Regions from separate parts of the Homo sapiens genome. Here region 2 is linked to region 1. Evidence: fine-mapped expression QTL. Tissue or cell type: whole blood. Region 1 holds a variant in brackets; the other region holds the start of a gene. All regions are shown on one strand. Distances are from middle to middle.

Region 1 (2,765 bases):
ACAGGTATTTGTAGACCCATGTTCATAGCATTATTCACAATAGCCAAAAGGTGGAAGCAACCCAAATGGCCATCAGTGGATGAATGGATAAGCAAAATGTGGCATATACATACAATAAAATATTATTCAACCTTAAAAAGGGAGGAAATTCTGACACAGGCTACAACATGGATGAAGCTGTTGATGAGGACATTGTGCTAAGTGAAATAAGCCAGTCACAAGAAGACAAATATTATGTGATTCCACTTATGTGAGGTACCTAGGGTAGTCACACTCATATAGAAAGTAGGATGATGGTCACCTGGGGCTTGGGAGTTATTGTTTAATGGATATGGAGTTTCAGTTTGGGAAAGGGATGGTGGTGATGAATGTAGAACAATGTGAATGTACTAAATGCTAATGAACTATACACTTAAAAATGGTTAAAATGGTAAATTCTGTTATGTATATTTTACCACAATTTCAAAAAGAAACAATACAGAGAAATATTTCAACTTCCCCCTTCTCCCCAGTGGCCCCCAAATACTCCATCTAATAACATTGGATGGCCGTGTTCCTCTATCCTTGAGAAAAGTGTGCTACAAATTAGCAGAGAGGTTTCTGAGTTCACAGAGTAGCAGTTTACCTCCTAAATAAAGTCAGCAAGTACCTATTCTGCTAGTGTTACTGCTTTGCTCAAACAGAACAAATTATCTTGCTCTCAAAATTGTTCCATCAAGGACCTGCTTCTGGGTTGGGGTTTTGTACCTAGCAGAGCAGCTCCCTCACTACAATCTATTGAAAGTCAGCCCTCAACACAAGGTTTTGTTAAAAAAAAAAAAATTGTTCCATCAGTGAATTGTTTATTCAATATATCATTAAATAAATATTGCAAGATTATATTAATATGTTCATGAGTCAAAGATTAAAGTTGTTGTGCTAAACAAAGCAAATATATTACTAATTCATTTATTTTACCAAGACCTGGGTAGAACTTTTATTCAAGCTACAAAACTGCATCTATAAAATAACAGAAATATCAAACTACGAGATACATTTTTATTACTTCCTCTGTTTCAATGCTCAGAATGAGCAGAACATTTCAACAATTGCCCAGTTTTTGTTTTGAAAAGATTCTGGACACTACATACAATTCTCTATAAAATGTATGATTGTTTTCTGAAAATCATACCATATTCATACAATGCTCTAATGACAAATATGCCATTCCCAGGGAGAAATGGAAGAGCCCAGAGATTTGTAGAATTTAGTTTACTTTATTTCACAGTAATGATTTGTAAAACATGAGCTTCCTGAGTTTCACAGTTTTTTGGTTTTTTTTTTTTTT[G/TG]GAGTGCTTTTTTTTTTTAAACATATCGTTTTTCTTTGTATTGGTCAATAAAACTCATGTTGCATGATATTTTACTCACATTAATTTTAGTCGTTATTAGGTTTGTGAGAAATCTAAGCACAAGACCAGCGGTGATCATTTTCTCCTCCCTGATCTACCATATGACTGTTTTTCATGGAGGGCTCTATTACACTAGAGAATGAGCTTGATGAGTAAGGGGCAAACATAGTGGTGTCATTATCCCAATGTCTATTCACTGTGCTCACCTTTCACTGGGTTCACCTTTCACTTGCATGCATTTGCAAACTAAAGCAAAAAAAAAAAAAGGTATTTATATTCTCCTGTTTACCATGGGTTTCCTAAGAGCAAATTGCAGAAGAATTGAGATCCAACAGAGTATGAGGAAAATTTTTTGGAAGAAAAATACAAAACTGTCAAAATGATAATGTCATAAAGACAAAACACTAAATGGCTATAAAAAGTGAAAGAAGAAAAATAAGGCATACGGCCTTTAAAAACAATACTAAGACTTTCTAAATTATGCATGTGGGAGAAGGAAAATAAGACATATGGCATTTAAAAACAATACTGAGATTTTAAAAATATTCTGCATGAAGTCAGAAAGTGTTATTGTTAGTGCAAAGATGTGAAGGCCAGAGTTCAGTTTATACACAAGGAAGTATTTTTATATTTTTTTCTCTGTAATAAGGATACCGTGTAAAGTGTATTCAGTTACATTGTCATTCATTAACCTGGATTACTCTCTGCAAAGAAATGATCAAAGAATTCAAAGTCCAATTCACCTAGAAATTCAAGCTAGTCGTAGCTTATCTTTCAGAAAGAAAGAATCCAGTGAAACCTAGATAGAAAAAAAGGAATAAATCTGGAGGTAATTGGGTGGTGGTAGATGAAATAAAAGGTATTTTTCCATTCCTGAAGTCTGACATCAAGCAGACCAGTAATATCATATTTACTTTTTCTCAAGCATACCTATTTTATTAAATGCCTCTTGTAGTTCTTCAAGCTCCTCCCGAGAAATGGTAGTAGTACTGTTTTCCATCTTTGGACAGAAAAGACTATCTTCAGGTCTTTATATCTAGAAAAAGCAATATTATAAAAAAAGCATGAAGCCTTTGGAAACATTTAACTAAGCAATATAAGGTACAGAGGAAGTACATTCTCTAGGAGGAATTATCTATGAGATCTGGCTGACAAAGAACAAATATGAGTAGGTCCCCTGGTAACAATCTCTCAGCATAGGCCAGCCAAACTATAACTGAGACTCAGTAAGGGGAAGAAACACCTATTTTTCTCACCTTGTGCTTTTACACAGATATTTCTCAATAGCCTAATGAATTAATAATTTCTATTTGCATTTTACCCCACGATTTCAAGAAAATAAGCATTGCATTTCAAGTTTGAGAAAAGTATAGCATTT
Region 2 (2,765 bases), 59 kb before region 1:
GGATGATTGCGTGACATGGCCTTAATATGGCCATAAAAATGATTAACTTCTAGACTAAAAAAAGGATAACGCGCTAAATATATTCCACATATTTTTGCCTTGTAATTCCTGTAATTATTTTTCACTATCTTTATCTCCCAAAGAAAGATCTGGGAGCAATAAATCTTTCTCTCCAATAAAAAGCACTAACAATCAAAGGCGTTCCGTAAATCCAGAGAAAGTTTTGGCAACTAAGGCAGAATTTCTTCCGTCCCGTCCTTACTTCATGTATCTCCACCTAGGATATTCCGTTATTAATGCCAGTCAACAGTCACTGGCTAAAGCACTGGTCAGGTGAAGCTAAATAATAGAGGGTCTGGTTTTGTTTTTAAGAAAAACAAAAACCAGGTGATGAGAACCCTCCATACGAGGCATCCTAAGGTAAGGTGACGGAATTTTCCGACTGGAGTGTCGGAAACTAGCCTCTCGACTCCCGGAAGGAATGAACTGCGAGCCAGAGAGAAGACCAGGTCATTCATGCGGTCAGTAGCAAGGGCGGCGCTAAAACGCTGGGGTCGGGGCTCCCAAGGCGCTACCTAAACCCCGGACCCCAAGGCCAGAGCCACCCCCGACGGTGCAGCGCTCCGAGGGCGCAGCCCCAGCTCCACTCTCCCGCCAGCTCCACACTCACAGGGCAGAGGCGGTGAGGAGAAGACCGCCTGAGGCAGCAGGCGAGGCGGGAAGACACTCGGCGCCTGAGACAGAGGGAATGCCCCGATATAAGTTGAGGCGGGGGAGAGGACTAAAGGTCTGGAGGACAGGGGCGTCCAGAGGAGAAAGGGGCCTAACTCTCACCCTTGTCGCACGCCAGCAAGAAAAGCTTCTCATTCAGCGTATTCTCCTCCTTCACCTCCCGCACATCCTTCAGCGCCATCACCTCGTTCGGCGAGGAAGAGGATGGAGAGGAAGGCAGGGAGGAGGAGGAGGCGCCCGAGAGGTCCGTGCTCGGGTACAGGGCCGCCATCATCGCGGCCCATGAAGGGGGCAGGCCAGGAGACGGGGGCGGGGCCCCCACCGGCCCCGACCCCGACCCCGACCCCAGCCACGCCCCAGGGCTGGAAAAAGGATGAGTCGTTCCCACTGCTGCCTCGGCTCGAGGCCCGTTGGCCCCGAAGGGCGTCGCCTCCCCTGAGAACCAGCACTCGCCCTCCACTGACAGCCCCAAGTTGGTGGCGGCGCATGCGCGGCCCCGGGGCCAGCGACCCCTCCCCAGCCGCCGGCGCCCCGGCCGAGCCGGTCCGCGCCCGTCCGGGGACGACAGTGTGGCGCGCGCCAGGGCGGCAGCCGAGCACGGGGCCGTGCCAGGAGTCGCAGGGGCCGCGCCTGGGGCGGCCTAGCCCAGGAAGAGGACGAGAGATCTGTGGGAGAGGAGCTCCAAGAGGCGCTTCTGCGCACGTTGGGCTCCAGGGCTGTGGGAACCGCTGGCCCAGCTGCGCTCCGAGGAGATGTTCGCGACTCTGTCCTCACGTCATCCTCTGCTCCTCTGTAGCGACGACACTAGGGAGGAGCCTGCGGCAAGGGCGGGCTTGGGTGGGCGGGGCCTGCGGCAAGCGGGGCGTGGGTGGGTGGGGCCTGCGGTGGGGACGCACTGGGCTCCTGGAGCCCGCTGCAGCTTCCTTCGCTCTGGTGAGGTGAACCGCAGTCTGAGGAAGACTTCGCTCAATCGTCCCTTTCCACACCCAGGGTACTGGTTTAAGGTAATTAAGCAAATATGGAGCAGTATGTTAATTGAGTCTCTGACGACTTAATGTTTAGTCGAAATCCTTTGTGGAATTGTCCAGCTATTTCATATTCTGGTGCACTATGCTTTAAAGCACAATGGAGAGCCAGACTCGTGGGTTTGTATGTTGTACTCATTTTAGGCTGGAAATGAACTCTCATTTATAAAGGATATATAGATATATAATTATATTATGTTTAAATAATTTATACAAATATATAAATTTTTATTTCCATATTATTTCCATAGGTTTTTGAGGAACAGGTGGTGTTTGGTTACATGAGTAAGTTCTTTAGTGATGATTTGTGAGATTTTGATGTACCCATCATCGAGCAGTATACACTGAACCTAATTTTGTAGTCTTTTATCCCTCTCCCCCTTCCCAACCTTTCCCCGAGTCCCGAAAGTCCATTGTGTCATTCCTATGCCTTTGCATCCTCAAAGCTTAGCTCTCACTTGTGAGTGAGAACATACGATGTTTGGTTTTCCATTCCTGAGTTACTTCATTTAGAATAAGAATAATAGTCTCCAGTCCCATCCAGGTTTCTGCGAATGCCATTTATTCATTCCTTTTTATGGCTGAGTAGTATTCCATCATTATATATATATCACATATATATATACCACATATATATATATATATATATATATCACAGTTTCTTTATCCACTCATTGATTCATGGGCATTTGGGTTGGCTCCACATTTTTGCAATTGCGAATTGTGCTGCTATAAATATGCATGGGCAAGTATCTTTTTCGTGTAATGACTTCTTTTCCTCTGGGTAGATACCCAGTAGTGGGATTACTGGATCAAATGGTAGTTCTACTTTTAGTTCTCTAAGGAATCTCCACACTGTTTTCCATAGTGGTGTACTAGTTTACAGTCCCACCAGTAATGTAGAAGTGTTCCCTTTTCACCGCATCCACACCAACAGCTATTATTTTTTGATTTTTTTGATTATGGCCATTCTTGCGGAAGTAGGGTGGTACATACGGCATAGCAGTT

The links. PIP is the estimated chance that this variant, and not a neighbour inherited with it, causes the effect.
Region 2: it holds the start of TRPC1, and the variant in region 1 is fine-mapped to the expression of TRPC1 in whole blood (INTERVAL, PIP 0.97).

The regions. Positions count from the first base shown.
Region 1 is chr3:142,663,860-142,666,624 of GRCh38, reverse strand. It overlaps PLS1 (plastin 1), which reads right to left. Exons shown (of 16, transcript NM_001145319.2): 2 at 2,318-2,423. The coding sequence starts at 2,387. Among named protein-coding and RNA genes, the nearest start is that of PLS1-AS1, 8.4 kb to the right of the region's middle. The variant G/TG (reference allele first, on the strand shown) is at 1,328.
Region 2 is chr3:142,722,801-142,725,565 of GRCh38, reverse strand. It overlaps TRPC1 (transient receptor potential cation channel subfamily C member 1), which reads right to left and starts at 1,532. Exons shown (of 13, transcript NM_001251845.2): 1 at 835-1,532. The coding sequence starts at 1,006. RefSeq lists an enhancer at 114-980 and a silencer at 1,239-1,288.